Linked DNA regions of Homo sapiens: region 2 is linked to region 1. A link means that fine-mapping ties the variant in region 1 to the expression of a gene that starts in the linked region. Tissue or cell type: whole blood. Region 1 holds a variant in brackets; the other region holds the start of a gene. All regions are shown on one strand. Distances are between the middles of the regions.

The links. PIP is the estimated chance that this variant, and not a neighbour inherited with it, causes the effect.
Region 2: PIGB starts here. The variant in region 1 is fine-mapped to the expression of PIGB in whole blood (TOPMed, PIP 0.96).

What each region holds. Positions count from the first base shown.
Region 1 is chr15:55,504,750-55,512,855 of GRCh38, reverse strand. It overlaps DNAAF4 (dynein axonemal assembly factor 4), which reads left to right and starts at 4,622. Exons shown (of 10, transcript NM_130810.4): 1 at 4,622-4,734. It overlaps LOC124903496, which reads left to right. Exons shown (of 2, transcript XM_047433411.1): 2 at 1-2,115. The variant C/A (reference allele first, on the strand shown) is at 4,217.
Region 2 is chr15:55,315,132-55,323,237 of GRCh38, reverse strand. PIGB (phosphatidylinositol glycan anchor biosynthesis class B) reads right to left here and starts at 4,016. Exons shown (of 12, transcript NM_004855.5): 1 at 3,825-4,016; 2 at 2,828-2,963; 3 at 1,848-1,965. The coding sequence starts at 3,987. PIGBOS1 (PIGB opposite strand 1) reads left to right here and starts at 4,115. Exons shown (of 2, transcript NM_001308421.2): 1 at 4,115-4,374; 2 at 5,371-6,054. The coding sequence starts at 5,446. The coding sequence ends at 5,610. It also overlaps a transcript of RAB27A not described here. RefSeq lists enhancers at 3,757-3,836, 3,907-3,986, 4,047-4,136, 4,187-4,256.

The DNA.
Region 1 (8,106 bases):
TGGATCCTTGAGTAAATATCTTAGTTCGAGGAGAAGTTTACAAACGCTCTGCTCAGCCAGTGTTTCAAACTTTCTAAGATGAACTAAATGTGCCAGTACCAGAAATTCCAGGAAAAACAAGAAATTTGTTTTTGCAATTAGCCAAGCATGTAGCCCAGTCTCTCAGTGTCACTTCATGTTATGTATGTGGAGGAACTGTGATGGGAGATCAATGGCCATGGGAAGCCCAAGAATTAGTACCTACAGACCCAGTTCCCAATGAATTCCCAGCTCAAAAGAGTCACCTTGATAATTTCTGGACCCTGAAGCCTCAATTATTGGACAATATTGCATAGCTAGAGAAGGAAAATAATTCACTCACCCCTTAGGACAACTTAGTTGTCTGGGACAGAAACTGTATAATGGTACCACAAAAACAGTCACTTGGTGGAGTTCAAATCACACAGAAAGGAATCCATTTAGTAAATTCCCAAGGTTGCAAACCATGTGGACCCACCTGGAGTCCCACTAGGACTGGACAGCCCCCACTGGATTATACTGGCTATGTGGGCATAGAGCTTACGCTAAATTACCTGGCCAGTGGGCAGGTAGTTGTATTACTGGCACTATTAAACCATCTTTCTTCCTACTGTCCATAAAGACAGGCGAACTCCTGGGCTTCCCTGTCTATGCTTCCCATGAAAAAAGAAGCATAGCTATAGGAAATTGGAAAGATAATGAATGGCCCCCAGAGAGAATCATACAATATTATGGACCTGCTACTTGGGGACGAGATGGTTCATGGGGATACTAGACCCCCATTTACATGCTCAACCAAATCATATGGTTACAAGCTGTCTTAGAAATAATCACTAATATGGGCTGGGCGCGGTGGCTCACACCTGTAATCCCAGCACTTTGGGAGGCCAACGCAGGTGGATCACGAGGTCAGGAGATTGAGACCATCCTGGCTAACATGGTGAAACCCCGTCTCTACTAACAATACAAAAAATTAGCCAGGGGTGGTGGCGGGTGCCTGTGGTTCCAGCTACTTGGGAGGCTGAGGCAGGAGAATGGCGTGAACCTGGGAGGCAGAGCTTGCAGCGAGCCGAGATTGTGCCACTGCACTCCAGCCTGGGCGACAGAGTGAGACTCCATCTCAAAAAAAAAAAAAAAAAGAAAAGAAAGAAAGAATCACTAATAAAACCGACAGAGCCTTGACTATTCTGGCCTGTCAAGAGACTCAGATGAGAAATGCTATCTATCAAAATAGATTGGCTCTTGACTACTTGCTAGCAGCTGAAGGAGGGGTCTGTGGGAAATTTAACCTTACTAATTGCTGTCTACACGTAGATGATCAAGGGCAAGTAGTTGAAGACATAGTCAGAGATATGATAAAACTGTCACATGTGCCCATGCAAGTGTGGCATGGATTTGATCCTGGGGCCATGTTTGGAAAATGGTTCCCAGTGTTAGGAGGATTTAAAACTCTTATAATAGGAGTTATATTAGTAATAGGAACCTGCTTACTGCTCCCTTGTTTGCTACCTGTACTTCTTCAAATGATAAAAAGCTTCATCGCTACCTTAGTTCACCAAAATGCTTCAGAACAACTGTACTATATGAATCACTATCGATCTGTCTTGCAAGAATACATGGGTAGTGAGGATGAAAGTGAGAACTCCCACTAATTGACTGAGGTTCTCAAAGTGGGGGAATAAGGGAGGAGACCACCCCTCATATTGTCTTATGCCCAATTTCTGCCTCCAAAGAAAGAAGTAAAAATTAAAAGGCAGAAATGGAATCCACAGGCAGATAGCCCAGCATCACGCCCTGGGCCTGGTAGTTAAGAATCAACCCCTGACCTAACTGCTCGTGTTATCTATAGATTTCAGACATTGTATGGAAAAACATTGTGAAAATCCCTGTCCTGTTTTATTCCGTTCTGATGACCGGTGCATGCAGCTCCCAGTCACGTACCCACTGCTTGCTTAATTGATCACGACCCTCTCACGCGGACCCCGTTAGAGTTGTAAGCCCTTAAAAGGGACAGGAATTGCTCACTCGGGGAGCTCGGTTTTTGGAAACGTGAGTCTGCTGATGCTTCCAGCTGAATAAAGCCCTTTCCTTCCACAACTCGGTGTCGTCTGAGGGGTTCTTGTCTGTGGTTCGTCCCGCTACACGTACAGGGTAATGGTTTAATATTTCATGAATAATATTAATTGTATTTCAAAATTAATGTGGTTAAATATACTGATATACTTTAATACATTTTTTCAACAGTTTAATGTTTTGGCATAGATAATAAATACAAATAGGAATTTGCATTTATCTAATGACAAAATGTTAACATTTTAAACTCTACTCAGTTATAAACTAAACTCAATTTTAAAATGTTTAAAAAATGTGTGGATGACACAAAAACAAACCTTCATGTTTGTTTATATTCTCCCCTTATTAATCCTCTTTAAGGATTAATTAAGCCTACAAAATTCTACTTTAATAATAGTTGTTCTCCTTAAGAGTCCCTTAAAACTTTTTTTTTTAATTAAATAACTAGGCCAGGTGTGGTGGCTCACACCTGTAATCCCAGCACTTTGGGAGGCTGAGGTGGGTAGATCCCCTGAGGTCAGGCATTCAAGACCAGCCTGGCCAACATGGTGAAACCCCGTCTCTACTAAAAATACAAAAAAATTAGCCAGGCATGGTGGCGCATGCCTGTACTCCCAGTTACTAGGGAAGCTGAGGCAGGAGAATCACTTGAACCCAGGAGGTGGAGGTTTCAGTGAGCCAGGATCACACCACTGCACTCCAGTCTGGGCAATGGAGCGAGACTCCGTTTTGAAAAAAAAAAAATGAAATAAGTGGTATTGTGCCAAAACAAGTCTAATAGGAAAAACAATCAAGCTCATACCCTATAAATATATATCTAAGATATTAGGACCCAAAAGAAAAGGAAAATTATGCAGGGTCACTTCACATTCTACATGACCTCTACCTAGATATTCTCATTTAATTTTAAATCACATTATCATTTCCGAAAGCCCAAATTTAAAATAGTAAAATAACTAATGCATTTAACACCTAGTGCCTAGAGTTTGGTCTGTAAAGCTATTCTCCACTAAATAGAACTAAAAGTTCTTGGAGAATTTCAATTCCTAGAGAAAAAAAAAGAAAAGAAAAACCTTTAAGGTGGACCTAAGTGATCTTGCTACTAGAATGAGGGATTTTTTTAAATGCCTTTTAAAGTTCCAAAGTGGTGTTAAGAAAACATAGAAAGCAACCTTTTCCAATGGCAAAATTTCGAATTTTGCACATCAAAAGTAAATAAAATTATAGGTAATTAATTTTAGGTTACGAATAGTAAATCATACTTAATTTTTGCTCCATAATGTATGCTTACACTCTCTAAGAACCTCAGGATATGAAATAAGGAAATAAGTATGCTTGTGTACTATAGAGATTGTTTTGAAATTTTTACTTTAAACTTGTAATATTTTTTACAAACAAAATAATTTATGGATTTACATACATAAACTATTAATAATAAAAGGAATAAGTATAAATCTATCACTGAAAATTACAGAGAGAGGAAAAAAATAACCTGGTGATATGGTTTGGCTGTGTCACCACCCAAATCTCATCTTGAATTGTAGTTCCCATAATCCCAACGTGGGGACCCAGTGGGTGATAACCGAATCATGGGGGCAGTTACCTCCATGCTGCTCTTGTGGTAGTGGGTGAGTTCTCATGAGATCTGATGATTTTATAAGGGGCTTCCCCCTACTTTGCTCTGCACTTCTCCTTGCTGCGGTCATGTGAAGAAGGACGTGTTTGCTTTCCCTTCCACCAAGATTGTAAGATTCCTGAGGCCTCCCCAGCCTTGCAGAATTGTGAGTCAATTAAACCTCTTTCCTTTATAACCCAGTCTTGGGTATGTCTTTATTAGCAGCGTGAGAACAGACTAATACACCTGTCAGTCTCCTTCATGCTTTCTGATTGCACGCTTTAATGCAATGACCAGAATCAAACAGAAACGACCTTGGGTGTTTTCTCTGGATTTTCCTGGGCAACCAGCCAGTGGGACCTGGACCTTCTGGCTCACAGTTGGAGGGGCTACACCTGAACTCAGCTTTTCATGGGATGGACAGTTTCTTCCAACACAAGTTCCAACAACTTTCTGTTTGACCCAAGGTCTCCAGATACTGGATAATGGGCTTTTTCAAAAAATACCTAT[C/A]GGGCCGGGCGCAGTGGCTCACGTCTGTAATCCCAGCACTTTGGGAGGCCGAGGGGGGCGCATCACGAGGTCAGGAGATTAAGACCATCCTGGCTAACACAGTGAAACCCCGTCTCTACTAAAAATACAAAAAATTAGCCGGGCATGGTGGCGGGCGCCTGTAGTCCCAGCTACTGGGGAGGCTGAGGCAGAAGAATGGCGTGAACCCGGGAGGTGGAGCTTGCAGTGAGCTGAGATCGTGCCACTGCACTCCAGCCTGGGCGACAGAGTGAGAGTCTGTCTCAGACAAACAAACAAACAAATAAATGCCTGTAAACAGACTGCCTGGTGCTCTAGTAGTTTCCTTACTGACAAAATTCTTTTTGTGTGTGCCCTATAAATAGGAGAGCAACAAGAGGATGGGATTCCTCTCCTATTATGCAAACCCACACCATGGATCCAGCAGACTACTCTGGCCCCAGCATGCTGCTCCTTGGGATGATGGGAGAAGGGGGAAACCTGTGTTTTCTCTTGGTTTTGTAAGTTTCCCCTTTCCCCAGTAAAACTCATCCCTTAATCTAGTGGTTCTCAAACTTTGGTGTGTATCAAAATTATCTGGTAGGCTGGATAAAACACAGATTGCTGTGCCCCACTTCCAGAACTTCTGGTTCAATAGATCTAGAAGGAGACTGGGAATTTGCATTTCTAACAGGTCCCCAGATGATGGTAATATTGCTGGTGGTGGTGGGGAGGACCACATTCTGAGAACCTCTGTATTTAATTTTATTTGTATTTATTTATTTTATTTATTGTTTTAATTTAATTTTTGAGTCCCTGTTACTCAGGCTAGAGTGCAGTGGCATAATCATAGTCCACTGTAACCTGAACTCCTGGCCTCAAGTGACACTCCCAAAGTGCTGAGATTACAGGCGTGAGACACAATGTGCATCCCGGGCCTTCGTTTTAATTCATACAGTGTGACTATGTGGTAATCAGTTCTGTTGGTTACCAAAAAGGCTCCCACTTGTATGAACTTCACATAAGAGTTAACCACTCTCCTTTCTAGTGCCTATCTTTACAGACGACCCCTGACTTATGATGGTTTCTCTTTGATTTCCTAACTTTACAGTGATGCAAAAGCTATATGCATTCAGTAGAAACCATGCTGTGAGTACCCATACAACCATTCTGTTTTTCATTTTTAATACAGTATTCAATAAATTACAGGGTATATTAGACACTTTATTACACCTTATTATGTTAGATGACTTTGCCCAACTGTAGGCTAATGTAAGTGTTCTGAGCATGTTTAAGGTAGGGTAGCCTAAGCTATGGTGTTTGGTAGGTTAGGTGTTTTACATGTATTTTTGACATAGGATATTTTCAACTTATGATGGGTTTATCAGGAGGTAACCACATTGTAAGTAGAGAAGTGTTTGTATAGTTTTACCACATACCTAGGAATCCTTATCTAGTGGATTCAGTTTCCGTTGTTCAAAAGTTTTATAAAGGCCAGGCATGGTAGCTCATGCCTGTAATCCCAGCACTTTGGGAGATGGAAGTGAACGGATCACCTGAGGTCAGAAGTTCGAGACCAGCCTGGCCAACATGGTGAAACCCCACCTCTAATAAAAATACAAAAAATTAGCCAGGCTTGGTGGTGGGTGCCTGTAATCCCAGCTACTCAGGAGGCTGAGACAGGAGAATCGCTTGAACCTGGGAGGCAGAGATTGCAGTGAGCCAAGATGCCCCATTGCACTCCAGCCTGGGTGACAAGAGTGAAACTCCATCAAAAAAAGAAAAAAGAAAAATAAAAAAGTAAAAGTTGTATAAAATAGCATTATTTCTTGAGGATATTATTTGACTTGCTTTTTTCACTCATCCATCCAATGTATAGCTATCATTCACTCATTTTTATTGTTGTATAATATTCTGTTTTGTGTATATACCTGTTGAAAGACATTTGGCTTATTTTCAGGTTTTTTTCTATGAAGTTGCTATGAACACCTATAAATGTTTCCTAGTGTATAGGACCAAGACTTTTTCTAGGGCAGTAATTCTCAGATGGGGGAAATTTTGCTATTCCCACCCACCCCTGAAACCCAGAAGACATTTGGCAATGTCTGGAGACACTTTTATTATTAGAACTCAGGAGTGTTACTAGAATTAAGAGGGTGGATGCTGCTAAACATCTTAAAATGCACAGAGCAGCCTAAATTATACAAAATGATCCAGCCTATAATGTTAATAGTGTGGAGGCTGAAAAACCCTGTTGTAGGACAGTGGTTCACAAAGCATCAGCATCACCTAGGAACTTGCTAGAAATCTCTAAGATAGATACATAGGAGTGGAATTGCTGGTTATAAAATAAGCAGGTATTCACATTAATAAGATTATGCCAATTTGCCCATTTTATTGTGGGGTTGTGTTTCTTTTTCTCTATATATTTTGTTTATATGTTCTCTTTGTTTATTATTGAGAAAGAGGGCAAAAAGCAGCCCCTGATATTCAGAAGCTGACCTGGCACTCACAGCTTGGCCATAATATTATTCTGTTGAACATTAACAATTTAAATCTCATAGAATACCAAGCTGAGACAAAAGTACTCTGAGATCACAATAAAATGAGACAAGGCCACTTCATAGCATTATCTAAGCATAGGCAAAAACAAGGTCTTTGTGTCACCCATAAGATAACAGACACCCCCTTTCTGGATAAAATGTACAACAGCTACTTTTTTTATTATTATACTCTAAGTTCTAAGGTACATGTGCACAACGTGCAGGTTTGTTACATAGGTATACATGTGCCATGTTGGTTTGCTGCACCCATCAACTTGTCACTTACATTAGGTATTTCTCCTAACGCTATCCCTCCCCCAGCCCCCCCACCTCTCAACAGGCCCCAGTGTGTAATGTTCCCCTCCCTGTGTCCATGTGTTCTCATTTTTCAACTCCCACTTACGAGTGAGAACACGTGGTGTTTGGTTTTCTGCCCTTGTGCTATTTTGCTGAGAGTGATGGTTTCCAGATTCATCCATGTCCCTGCAAAGGACGTGAACTCCTCCTTTTTTATGGCTGCATAGTATTCCATGGTGTATATGTGCCACATTTTCTTTATCCAGTCTATTATTGATGGACATTTGGGTTGGTTCCAAGTCTTTGCTATTGTGAATAGTGCCTCAGTAAACATACGTGTGCATGTGTCTTTATAGTAGCATGATTTATAATCTTTTATATATACCCAGTAATGGGATTGCTGGGTCAAATGGTATTTCTAGTTCTAGATCCTTCAGGAATCTTCACACTGTCTTCCATAATGGTTGAACTAATTTACACTCCCACCAAAAGTGTAAAAGTGTTCCTATTTCTCCACATCCTCTCCAGCATCTATTGTTTCTTGACGTTTTAATGATCACCATTCTGACTGGTGTGAGATGGTATCTCACTGTGGTTTTGATTTGCATTTCTTTGATGACCAGTGATGACAAGCATTTTTTCATATGTCTGTTGGATGCATAAATGTCTTCTTTTGAGAAGTGTCTGTTCATATCCTTTGCTCACTTTTTGATGGGGTTGTTTTTTTCTTGTAAATTTGTTTAAGTTCTTTGTAGATTCTGGATATTAGCCCTTTGTCAGATGGATAGATTGCAAAAATTTTCTCCCATTCTGTAGGTTGCCTGTTCACTCTGATGATAGTTTCTTTTGCTGTGCAGAAGCTCTTTAGTTTAATTAGATCCCATTTGTCAATTTTGGCTTTTGTTGCCATTGCTTTTGGTGCTTTAGTCATGAAGTTTTTGCCCATGCCTATGTCCTAAATGGTATTGCCTAAGTTTTCTTCTAGGGTTTTTATGGTTTTAGGTCTTACATTTAAGTCTTTAATCCATCTTGAGTTAATTTTTGTATAAGGTG
Region 2 (8,106 bases), 190 kb after region 1:
GTGACCTTGGTCTATTTACTTCACTTCTCCAACCTCTTCTAGCTTCAAAATTATGTATATAATTTGCTTAAAATAATCAATATGAGAGTATGAATGACTGATCATATCCTAATGAATCTCTACAGGGTCAAGTTCTAGATACGACAATGAGTTCCTTTTAGAGGGGTTGGAGCAGGTCAGGGGAGGCTTCCTTCACATCACAAAATGACCTGGTGGGTCAGCTACAGATGGAGGGCAGTGGATAGGTCTTGGAGGAGCAGGAAATTTTTCTATCTTGAAGACCTCTTCATTTGTAATCTGACCTACTTCCTGGGATATAAACTGTCATTGATGAGATTATGTATATTTTCTTGTGATTCCAGACTTTATGGATACCTTGCATAATCTATAAACTAGTAGATAACTGTAAGAGAAGAAAAGCCAGGTTGCGGCTCCTAAATTCTGCCTGTTGTTAATGGAAGAAACTCTGCTACTGCTCTGAATTCTCCTTCCCCATCATCTTCCCATTTGAAGCATCGGTTTCACTGGTTTAACCCTAATTTCTCAATAACGGAAGCAAATATTGCAATGGGGAGAGTACAACCCCACCTTAAAACAAATACCCTAGAACCTGTGTCTTTCTAAGCTACACAAAACACGTCAGGATTTGGACTGCCTTTGGAATGCTGAGCCATTAACCCCCACTGACAGAAATCGGGGGGAGCACAAACTCTGAGTCTCATCTGATGACAGCTTAAAAGATCATGGGAGTGAGGCTAGAGAAACTTTTACACCATTAGTCCTGCCCTTGTACTATCTCCTGGCAACTGACCCCAGCAATTAATAGCCTAGGAATTACAATCCTACTTACTGTTGATGCCTAATTACTATATAGGACGATGATTATGCAGATCATTAAATGTTTGTCAAATTAAAAATTTTAAAGTTTTAATTTCAACACTAAATCCTCAGTGGGTTTAGATGTATACAGACTTCATAAAATCATATCACACGGTCTTCTTACAAGGTAAAAAACACAAAATACAACGGTGCTCTCAAGTGATACTTTTTTTGCGGGGGATGGGGGAAGGAGTTTCGCTTTTGTTGCCCAGGCTAGAATGCAATGGCGTGATCTCGGCTCACCGCAACCTCCACCTCCTGGGTTCAAGTGATTCTCCTACCTCAGCCTCCAGAAAGTCTGAGATTACAGGCATGCGCGACCACACCCGGCTAATTTTGTATTTTTAGTAGAGACGCGGTTTCTCTGTGTTGGTCAGGCTGGTCTCGAACTCCCAACCTCAGGTGATCCGCCCGCCTCGGCCTCCCAAAGTGCTGGGATTACAGGTGTGAGCCACCGCACGGGCAGATCACCTCAGGTCGGGAGTTCGAGACCAGCCTGACCAACACAGAGAAACCCCATCTCTACTAAAAATACAAAATTAGCCGGGCATGGTGGTGCATGCCTGTTATCCCAGCTACTCGGGAGGCTGAGGCAGGAGAATCGCTTGAACCCGGGAGGTGGAGGTTGTGGTGAGCCAAGATCACGCCATTGCACTCCAGCCTAGGCAACAAGAGCAAACTCCGTCCCAAAAAAAAAAAAAAAAAAAAAAAAGAAAGAAGTATACTTCTAATGTCCAAATAATACATAATATAGTCATTTTGAAAATCTGCACATCATAACAGGATTCCTCATAGCAGGATATTTTCATGCTCAGTCTTGTATTTCAGCACAAACTAAAGAGTTACACATCACAGTATGTCTGTAGTATCATGGGCTTCCCAGATATGGCTGGACTTCAGCAACAGTAGCCTTTTAAAAACAAATTCCATGGCCCCAATATCATTTAGTTACTTTTATTTAAACTTACCAGCAACTGAACACTATCTTTCCCTAAAAGATGAAGAATCTTGTAAATGCTTGCAAAGATTAAGGGATAAGTGTAACTCCTCAGTCTCTCTGTCCATTCCCAAGTCAAATAACCATAATTAGTAACATTAAGGAGTAAATGTCCAATAATATTGAAACCTATTTCCGTGTTTTTTTTTTTTTTAAGATGGGGTCTCACTCTCTTGCCCAGGCTGGTCTCAAACTTGGGCTCAAGTGGTCCTGCCTCTACAGGTGCACACCACTTCACCTGGCAAAATCTATTTTCATTTCCATTTATAAAACAATATTTTATTTTGTGGCAGTCTTAAAACAGCATTTTATACTGGATATTTGCATTAAAAATTCAATTGGCCAACTAAACTCTTAACTTCTTCAAGGCAGTAATGTGTTTTTTACTTTCTCTGTATCCTCCAAGTGCTAAGTACTGTGGGAATGTATGCTAACGGCTGTGTCAAGTATATTAACATAAAAGAAAGATACAGGAGAAATATTTGTATAAAATAATGGTATACTTTGATGAGTTAAAATTATTTGGGGAAAATACGGAAAACTGAAAATATGTATAGTAGTCCCCCCTTATCTGTGGTTTCTCTTTCCATGTTTCAGTTGCCCAGAGTCAACCACTGTCTGAAAATATGAAGATATTTTGAGAGAGACCACATAAAAGTTCACATAACTTTTATTATAGTATTGTGTTATACTTGTTATATTTTAATACTGTTAATCTCTTACTGTACCTAATTTGTATAAACTTTATCATAAGCGTGTGTGTATTTTTTACATATATAAAAACAATATATATAGAGTTTGGTACTGTCTACAGTTTCAAGCATCCACTAGGGATTTTGGAAACTATCTACTGAAGACGAGGGAGCAAGGGGGACTACTCTAAAAGAAACTGAGCACAATTTCCAAGATGAATACACACTCATAGTCTGGAAAAGAAACCACAAAGGATATTTGAAAACCATGTGATGTGAAACTTCAAGAGACTGCCAGTATTCATCTGGAACAAAACTTGTCTGCACTAAAAAGCAGTTTAATATTCGTAAAGCTATGGTAAACAAGAGCAGATAAATATTTTCTCCAAGAAGATCTGAAAAACAGAACAAAACAGGTAATAGTGGCACAAAAGTCAGGCAGTTCCACTTGCAAAACTTAAAATCTGCTGCTCTGGTTGGCTCCTTGTAAGGCACAGTAGTGACCTCTGGTCCCTCCACACCATTCTTAAAGCCAACTTGGTTGGTTATACAAGCACCACAGCGTCATCACTGGGTGACTGCCACTCTTTTAGTTTAACCAACTTTTCTTGCAACTTATTGTGTAAAGATAATATTAAAATAAATACAAAAAAAAAAGAGTGGGTTAACTAAGGCCTTAGGCTAATTAATTAGGTCATACTATGTGTGTATCTAATGAAAGAAACCAGCTAACAAATTACTAATTTGGGAAGCAGCCCTTTGTATATGTGCAATATAAAATGGTCCTCTGTACATATATATTGATGATTACTATTATATATGCCAGGCACTGTGTTAATTTCTTCACATGCATCTCACTTAATCCTCCAAACAATATTATGGGATAGGTATTATTAGCCCCATTTTACAGACGAGCAAATTGAGGCCCAGAAATTAAACTGCCTTGTCCAAATAAAGTTGTAAATTACTTATCAGGATTCAAACCCGGGTCTGTGTGATGTCTCCAAAGTCCTGCTCTTGACCACAAATGGACAGCCTGTCGGCCAAATACAGAGTATTTTTTAAAAAATTGAATTTAGTTGCCAACATTTAAAAATCAGAATTTATATTAAAATCTGTGTTTCCAGCATTTCCCAGCATTTCAAAACTCAAGATCTGGCAACACAGAGCTCAACGGGCAACTGGCTGGTAATGAAATGGAGGGGGTTCCTTTTAGATGGGGGTAGGAGCTCTCCAGACAGTGTCCCCTCACTCACCCCCGCGGCGCCTGGCGCTCTTCTCCTGGGTGTTGAAGTACAAGGTAGACTTTCTCTTTCGCAGCTTTATCTTGCCGTGGGAGCGGTTCTGGAGACCATGCAAAGTGAGGCTGGCATCTCCGCCCCCCGGCTCCATTCCGCACTTGCTTAGGGGCCTCCTCATCCCTGGCCGCCACCTTCCTAAGGCGGAAGAAAGCTGCAGTAGCGCGCTGCTCGTCCATCCATTAAGTTTGGCCTTTGAGAGCAGTCGTCGCTCGCAAGCCCGGAAGTAACCGGGAACGGGCAACTTCGTAGCTCCCACCCGACGTGGTGGCCTCCTTGCGGTTTCCTTTCGCCGTTTCCGAACCGAGGGATTGCTACTCGCCTTTGGCTTGGCGGTCTCTGTGCTCGGGGGTCCGAAAACTGCTGGAAGGCCCCCGGTCTCTGGAGGGGAGCAGGCGGTAGCGAGTTTAGTGACGTGGAGCAGGCGCAGAACAGTCGGAGGTACCTGAGTGGTTATTAAAAACGGTAACGGTAATTGTAGACGTCAGTGTTGGTGTTAACATTTCAGGTTCGTTGCTCTCACAAAAAATGCCTGTTCAACGAGGTAGGCAGGGTAGGGATGATTTAGCTTGTTGTACAGATGTGGAAACAGGCCGAATGGTTCCTATTTTTTTTGTTGTTGTTGCTGTTGTTAGGTTTTTTTTTTGTTTTTGTTTTTGTTTTTTTTTTTGAGACGGAGTTTCGCTCTTGTAGTCCAGGCTGGAGTGCAGTGGCGCAATCTGGGCTCACTGCAACTTCTGCCTCCCGGGTTCCAGTGATTTTCCTGCCTCAGCTCCCAAGTAGCTGGGACTACAGGCGCGCCACCACGCCTGGCCAATTTTTGTGTTTTTTTGTAGAGACGGGGTTTCACCATATTGGCCTGGCTGGTCTGGAACTCCTGACCTCGTGATCCGCCCGCCTCGGCCTCCCAAAGTGTTGGGATTACAGGCGTGAGCCACCGCGTGCGGCCCACTCCTCTTGTTAAAAGTAAAACCAGGCCGGGCGCGGTGGCTCACGCCTGTATTCCCAGTACTTTGGGAGGCCAAGACGGGCGGATCAGGAGGTCAGAGGATCGAGACCATCCTGGCTAACACGGTGAAACCCCGTCTCTACAAAAAATACAAAAAATTAGCCGGGTGTGGTGACACGCGCCTGTAGTCCCAGCTTCTCGGGAGGCTGAGGTAGGAGAATGGCGTTAACCGAGGAGGCGGAGCTTGCAGTGAGCCGAGATTGCGCCATTGCACTCCAGCCTGGGCGACAGAGCGAGACTCCGTCTCAAAAAAAAAAAAAAAAAGAAAAAGTATGCATTTAAAACCATTGAGAACATTCTGTAATAGAAAAGGTTTTAGTTTTGTCTTATACCCTTCCCTAATTCACTTCCTGTACTCCTTATGTATTTATATTCTTGTTTTAATTAGTAACATATTATAAAAATATTGTTCACTCCAGTGCAAAGTAGTGACATAACATCTTTTAAAAGGACATTGTACTAAGTGATGGCTTTGCTTTCCATTTTTGTATGCAGATTTGAAGAGATTTCCTGGGTGTGGAGTGTGACTTTCCAAAACCAGCTTTTCCTTGAGCTGTATTTGTTGCAGCAATGTTTAGGAGATTGACTTTTGCACAACTGCTTTTTGCCACTGTCCTTGGAATTGCTGGAGGAGTATATATTTTTCAACCAGTATTTGAACAGTATGCCAAAGATCAGAAGGAATTAAAAGAAAAGATGCAGTTGGTACAAGAATCAGAAGAGAAGAAAAGTTAATACTACATGGAGTTAGGCCTGGCGCAGTGGCTCACGCCTGTAATCCCAGCACTTTGGGAGGCCGAGGCGGGTGGATCAGGTGGTCAGGAGTTCAAGACCAGCCTGACCAACATGGTGAAACCCTGTCTCTACTGAAAATACAAAAATCAGCCAGGCTTGGTGGCATGCGCCTGTAATCCCAGCTACTTGGGAGGCTGAGGCAGGAGCATCACTTGAACCTGGGAGGCAGAGGTGGCAGTGAGTCAAGATCACGCTGCTGCACTCCAGCCTGGGTGACAGAGCGAGACTCCATCTAAAAAAACAAAAAGCAAAAAAACCCACAAATACCTCATGGAGATGAACTGTAATAATTGCTTAAAGTTCCATTTAATTATGTTAACTCTAATCTAGCAAAAACATAGATGTACTTAAAAATAAATCATGGATAATGATTTTTTAACCTAACACTGTTAATTTTAATGTTTATTGTATATTTGTCATTTTATGTCTTTTTACCAGGACAGATAAGTAATTTCCTTTTAAACAAAAGTGAATATTTTAGGAATATTTTCTACTTGAGGTTTATTTTTCTAGGAATTCAGCATATGCAGTATCATGGGGTGCCAGTCTCAGTGTGTATATAATAATTGGGAAGGGTGTTTGCAATAGTGTTTGTAGATATGTGAACCAACTTAAACTACCTCAGGCAGAAATCCACTCCGTTACCCTGCAGTTAGATTGGTTTAATATATTTTGGCAGTCATTCAATCCCAGCCGTTTTTCATCTCAGGCAGTGTGGAGGAGTAGTTGAGAGTTGGGATGGCTCAGATCAAATTGAGGTTTTAGAGAAGGTAGATGTTGTTTGAGAGGATGGCAGATATGACACAGATGTTTTTTAATCCACTAAGCAAATTTGCATTAATAATTGTGTTAAGGGAGTAGTTAATTTATTATGAAGCTATTATTCATATAGTTAAAATTTTTTTTGAAGTTACTAAGAATTGGTATTACTTTTTACTCTAGCGTTAAGTTTGTATTTTCTTTTTTTCTCCTTTTTTTTTTTAAGTTCTGGGATACATGTGCTGAACGTGCAGGTTTGTAACATAGATATACATGTGCCATGGTGTTTGCTGCACCTGTCAACCCGTCATCTAGGTTTTAAGCCCTGCAGGCATTAGGTATTTGTCCTAATGCTCTCCCTCCCCTTGCCCCCCACCCGCCCCCGACAGGCCCCAGTGTGTGATGTTCCCCTCCCTGTGTCCATGTATTCTCATTGTTCAGCTCTCACTTATGAGTGAGAACATGTGGTGTTTGGTTTTCTGTTCCTGTGTTAGTTAGTTTGCTGAGAATGATGGTTTCCAGCTTCATCCATGTCCCTACAAAGTACATAAATTCTTTTTTTTTTTTTTTTTTTGAGACGGAGTCTGGCTCTGTTGCCCAGGCTGGAGCGCAGTGGCGCAATATTGGTTTGCTGCAACCTCTGCCTCCGCCTCCCAGGTTCAAGCAGTTCTGCCTCAGCCTACGTAGTAGCTGGGACTACATGTGTGCACCACCACACCTAGCTAATGTTTGTATTTTTAGTAGAGATGGGGTTTCACCATTTTGGCCAGAATGGTTTCAATCTGCTGACCTCGTGATCCACCTGCTTCGGCCTCCCAAAGTGCTGGGATTATAGGCATGAGCCACCGCGCCTGGCCGTGCATGTGTCTTTATAGTAGAATGATTTGTAATCCTTTGGGTATATACCCAGTAATGGGATTGCTGGGTCAAATGGCATTTCTGGTTGTAGATCCTTGAGGAATTGCCACACTGTCTTCACAATGGTTGAACTAATTTACACTCCCACCAACAGTGTAAAAGCGTTCGTATTTCTCCACAGCCTCACCAGCATCTGTTGTTTCCTGACTTTTTAATGATCACCATTCTAACTGGCATGAGATGGTATCTCATTGTGGTTTTGATTTGCATTTCTCTAATGACAAGTGATGATGAGCTTTTTTTCATAAGTTTGTTGGCTGCGTAAATGTCTTCTTTTGAGAAGTGTCTGTTCATATCCTTCACTCACTTTTTGATGGGGTTGTTTTTTTCTTGTAAATTTGTTTAAGTCCCTTGTAGATTCTGGATATTAGCCCTTTGTCAGATGGATAGATTACGAAAATTTTCTCCCATTCTGTAGGTTGCCTGTTCACTCTCACGATAGTTTCTTTTGCTAGGCAGAAGCTCTTTAATTAGATCCCATTTGTCGATTTTGGCTTTTGTTGCAATTGCTTTTTGGTGGCCTTGTCATGAAGTCTTTGCCCGTGCCTATGTCCTGAATGGTATTGCCTAGGTTTTCTTCTAGACTTTTTATGGTTTTAGGTTTTCCATTTAAGTTATTAGTCCATCTTGAGTTAATTTTTGTATAAGGTGTAAGGAAGGGGTCCAGTTTCTGTTTTCTGCATATGGCTAGCCAGTTTTCCCAGCACCATTTATTAAATAGGGAATCCTTTCCCCATTGCTTGTTTTTCTCAGGTTTGT